2 separate regions of the Homo sapiens genome follow, and region 1 is linked to region 2. A link means that fine-mapping ties the variant in region 2 to the expression of a gene that starts in the linked region. Tissue or cell type: whole blood. Region 2 holds a variant in brackets; the other region holds the start of a gene. All regions are shown on one strand. Distances are between the middles of the regions.

The links. PIP is the estimated chance that this variant, and not a neighbour inherited with it, causes the effect.
Region 1: EFHC2 starts here. The variant in region 2 is fine-mapped to the expression of EFHC2 in whole blood (TOPMed, PIP above 0.99).

What each region holds. Positions count from the first base shown.
Region 1 is chrX:44,342,352-44,344,851 of GRCh38, forward strand. It overlaps EFHC2 (EF-hand domain containing 2), which reads right to left and starts at 1,321. Exons shown (of 15, transcript NM_025184.4): 1 at 1,196-1,321. The coding sequence starts at 1,237.
Region 2 is chrX:44,253,357-44,256,200 of GRCh38, forward strand. All of the region lies in intron 4 of EFHC2 (EF-hand domain containing 2), which reads right to left. Among named protein-coding and RNA genes, the nearest start is that of EFHC2, 89 kb to the right of the region's middle. RefSeq lists enhancers at 1-109, 110-962. The variant T/C (reference allele first, on the strand shown) is at 1,401.

The sequences.
Region 1 (2,500 bases), 89 kb after region 2:
ACAATTGCCTTGAGTGGCTCCATCTAATTCCCTCCCATCTAATTGGGAATTAGCTTCTCCTGCAGACACAGATGGCTGACCCAAGTGAAGGGTAGTAACCAGTATAAACAAAAGCCTGAATCATTTTCCTGCTGTCGTTTAAATGAGGTGCTATTTATTGGCAAAAGTTCTTTCATGCTCAGGGTTTTTTGTGTTGTGTTGCTTTGTTCTGTACGTTCATCTTCTTTTGAAATGAACCCCTCCAGGACAGGCGCAGTGGCTCAGCCTGTAATCCCAGCACTTTGGGAGACCGAGGCGGGCAGATCACTTGAGGTCAGGAGTCCGAGGCCAGCCTGGCCAACATGGTGAAACCCCATCTTTACTAAAAATACAAAAATTAGCCGGTGTGGTGGCGGGCGCCTGTAATCCCAGCTACTCGGGAGGCTGAGGCAGGAGAATCGCTTGAACCTGGGAGGTGGAGGTTGCAGTGAGCCGAGATCGGGTCACTGCACTCCAGCCTGGGCGACAGAGCGAGACTCCGTCTCAAAAAAAAAAAAAGAAATGAACCCCTCCCAATTATAAATAGAGAAAAAAAAAATCCCTCCAAGTTTGGGTGCCTGTCTCTATAAAGTTTGGGAGTAAACTTTACAGGCTGATAGAACTCTTATCTGCCACCTACCCCTCTTGATAAGTGCCAGATTTCTTCAATTTGATAATTGAAACGGTATCTTTTTTCACACAGGATACTGGGGATAATGATTAGGCTCCTGAGCTGTGGAGACAAGGTTGCTTGAAAGAAACCCAGCTTCACCACTGAGACTGTGTGGTTCTGTGCCTCAGTTTCCTCAATAGTAACTGGGAATAAAAACTACCTAATTCAAAGGGCTGTTGGGACACTGGATGCTGCATAAGGTGATTAAAGCACAGCGCCTGGCACACATTAAACCCCCAATGGTTATCGTCACTATTATTTGTTACCTTTGAGGGTCCTGCCACCTATAAGGACTCTCTCTATATATTTCTAAATTAGGAAAAACATTCAGATGCAGCTGGAGAGATGGGAGAAGCAGCCTATAAAGTTTGGTCCAAGTTGCCACCAACCCAGGGCAGCAGCATGGGGCCTCCAGGAGAGTCTGCGGAGGTGGCCACGCCACGACCCTGCCTGGACCCCAGACTCCAGCCGGGAGCTGTGACCTCGGACGCCCTTCCTACTCACGTTGCGGTTGAAGCTGTTGCCCGGCAGCAGAGGCAGGGCCATGGCGCTCAGTGTCCGAAAATCCAGGGTCCCAGAAGAGAGGGCCCGGCAGGCAGCGGCGCCTCCCGGCCGTGTTGTTTGGCCCCCACGTTGCCTGGAGACGGGAAGCGGCGTCACGGAGGGAGGAGGGGCGGGGGGTTGGCGAGAAGGATCGTGGGGGGCGGGGGACACCTCCGCGGCGCGTACCTCCTCCCCAGCCCCAGTTCCCCTCCACCCGCTTCATCCCCGCACACACTCAGCCAGGTCCTGGTCTCCTGAGGAGTCTTCTCTCTGCACACGCAGTGTGCACACACAAAGATTGACTGTTCCCTGCCCCCGCCGCTTTCTGGTTTAACCCCCTTATAGAACTCAAAGCCTTTCTTGTACTTTCTTGCTTTTCCAATTCTTGTCGCCAACAGTTTTTTGCTATGTGGTTCAAACACACAGCAAAGTACAGAAAGTAATATGACGCCCGTGTGCTCACTGAGATGTTACACAAGTCGATATTTTCCTATGTTGCATAGACATCAGCTTTTATTTTGTAATTAAAACGTTCAAGATGAATCTAAAGCCACATATACCCTGACGAAAACGCGTTGTAATGGTAACCACCGCCTTCAGTTTTTCTTCTGGATATTTTTATATTTGTTGTTTGTTTGTTTGTTTGTTGTTTTAAGACAAGGTCTCACTATGTTGCCCAGGCCGATCTCGAACTCCTGGGCTCAAGCAGCCCTCCCGCCTCTGCCTCCCAAAGTGCTGGGATTACAGGTATGAGCCACCGTGTCCGGCCCATTTTTGTATTTGAACTAAACGTTTGTAAGGCCCAATCAGGGGTGGCCGGGGCGGAGTCAGGTGTCACAAATCGCAACCCCTGTCACTCCATCGTTCACCCCAAGATAGCCGGGCCAGGAACCTCCTCTCCCGACACCTACGTCTAATCCCTCCCTGAAGCCCTAAAGGTTGGACTCGATGCTCTCTCTCAGTCACCACCTCGTCTATTTCAGCTGCGATCCCATTGTTTCTTGCCTGGTTTTCTTCTTTAAAAAGAAAAACAAACACACACAAAAAACTAACTGATCTTGCCTCCAGAGCCGTCGTTTTTATAATTCATGGTGCAGCTGTTACTCTTCTGCTTCAATAATCTAGCCTTCCCGCCGCCTTCAGAAGGTGGTGAAACTCCTTATAGCCTGGTCTGAGGAGCTTTTGTCAGAGGGCACCTACCAATGCCCTCCATCCCTTTCTTTGCCCCCTCCTCCATCTACTCCAGCTCTGAGAAACCACTGGCAG
Region 2 (2,844 bases):
AAGCTAAGACCGATGGCTTGAAATTCTCGCTGCCAGCACAGCAGTCTGAAGTCGATCTGGGACGCTGGAGCTTGGTGGGGGGAGGGGCGTCCCCCATTACTGAGGCTTGTGTAGGCGGTTTTCCCCTCACAGTGTAAACAAAGCTGCCAGGAAGTTGTAACTGGGCGGAGTCCACCACAGCTCAGCAATGATTTTGTAGCCAGACTACCTCTCTAGATTCCTCCTCTCTGGGTAAGGCATCTATGAAAGAAAGGCAGCAGCCCCAGTCACAGGCTTATAGATAAAACTCCCATCTTCCTGGGACACAGAACATGGGGGAAGGGGTGGCTGTGGGCACAGCTTCAGCAGACTTAAACGTTCCTCCTGCCAGCTCTAAAGAGAGCAGCAGACCTCCCAGCACAGTGCTCGAGCTCTGCTAAAGGACAGATTGCCTCCTCAAGTGTGTCCCTGACCCCTGTGCCTCCTGCTAGGAGACACCTCCCAGCAGGGGTTGACACCTCTTAAAGGAGACCTCCGACTGGCATCTGGAGGGTGCCCCTCTGGGACGAAGCTTCCAGAGGAAGGAACAGGTAGCAATCTTTGCTGTTCTGCAGCCTCCACTGGTGATACCAAGGCAAACAAGGTCTGGATTGGACTTCCAGGAAACTCCAGCAGACCTGCAGCAGAGAAGCCTGACTATTAGAAGGAAAACTAACAAACAGAAAGGAATAGCATCAACATCAACAAAAAGGATGTCCAAATGAAAACTCCATCCGAAGGTCAACAACATCAAAGACCAAAGGTAGATAAATCCACAAAGATGAAGAAAAACCAGCACAAAAAGGCTGAAAATTCCAAAAAACCAGAACACCTCTTCTCCTCCGAAGGATCACAACTCCTCGCCAGCAAGAGAACAAAACTGGACGGAGAATGAGTTTGATGAATTGACAGAAGTAGGCTTCAGAAGGTGGGTAATAACTAACTCCTCTGAGCTAAAGGAGCATGTTTTAACCCAATGCAAGGAAGCTAAGAACCTTGAAAAAAGGTTAGAGGAATTGCTAACTAGAATAACCAGTTTAGAGAAGAACATAAATGACCTGATGGAGCTGAAAAACACAGCACGAGAGCTTTGTGAAGCATACACAAGTATCAATAGCTGAATCGATTAAGCAGAAGAAAGGATATCAGAGATGGAAGATCAACTTAATGAAATAAAGCGTGAAGACAAGATTAGAGAAGAAAGAATGAAAAGGAACAAACAAAGCCTCCAAGAAATACGGGACTATGTGAAAAGACCAAACGTACGTTTGATTGGTGTACCTGAAAGTGATAGGGAGAATGGAACCAAGTTGGAAAACACACTTCAGCATATTATCCAGGAGAACTTCCCCAACCTAGCAAGACAGGCCAACATTCAAATT[T/C]AGGAAATACAGAGGAAACCACAAAGATACTTCTCAAGAAGAGCAACCCCAAGACACATAATTGTCAGATTCACCAAGGTTGAAATGAAGGAAAAAGTGTCAAGGGCAGCCAGAGAGAAAGGTCGGGTTACCCACAAAGGGAAGCCCATCAGACTAACAGGAGACCTCTCTGCAGAAACCCTACAAGCCACAAGAGAGTGGGGGCCAATATTCAACATCCTTAAAGAAAAGAATTTTCAACCCAGAATTTCATATCCAGCCAAACTAAGCTTCACAAGCAAGGGGGAAATAAAATCCTTTACAGATAAGCAAATGCTGAAAGATTTTGTCATCACCAGGCCTGCCTTACAAGAGCTCCTGAAGGAAGCACTAAATGTGGAAAGGAAAAATCAGTACCAGCTGCTGCAAAAACATACCAAATTATAAAGACCATTGATGCTATGAAGAAACTGCATCAATTAATGGGCAAAATAATCAGCTAGCATCATAATGACAGGATCAAATTCACACATAACAATATTAACCTTAAATGTAAACAGGCTAAATGTCCCAATTAAAAGACACAGACTGGCAAATTGGATAAAGGGTCAAGACACATCAGTGTGCTGTATTCAGGAGACCCATCTCACATGCAAAGACACACATAAGCTCAAAATAAAGGGAGGGAGGAATATTTACCAAAAAAATGGAAAGCAAAAAAAAGCAGGGGTTTCTATCCTAGTCTCTGATAAAACAGACTTTAAACCAACAAAGATCAAAAAAGACAAAGAAGGGCATTTCATAATGGTAAAGAGATCAATGCAACAAGAAGAGCCAACTATACTAAATATATATGCACCCAATACAGGAGCACCCAGATTCATAAAGCAAGTCCTTAGAGACCTACAGAGAGATTTAGACTCCCACACAATAATAATGAAAGACTTTAACACCCCACTGTCAATATTAGACAGATCAACGAGACAGAAAATTAACAAGGATATTCAGGACTTGAACTCAGCTCTGGACCAAGTGGACCTAATAGACATCTACAGAACTCTCCACCCCAAATCAACAGAGTATACATTCTTCTCAGCACCACATCACATTTATTCTAAAGTTGACCACATAATGGGAAGTAAAACACTCCTCAGCAAATGCAAAAGAACGGAAATCATAACAAACAGTCTCTCAGACCACAGAGCAATCAACTTAGAACTCAGGATTAAGAAACTCACTCAAAACCGCACAATTGCATGCAAACTGAACAACCTGCTCCTGAATGACTACTGGGTAAATAACAAAATTAAGGCAGAAATAAATAAGTTCTTTGAAACAAATGACAACAAAGACACAACATACCAGAATCTCTGGGACACAACTAAAGCAGTGTTTAGAGGCAAATTTATATATTTAGTGCTTATAAGCACTAAATGCCCACAGGAGAAAGTGAGAAAGATCTAAA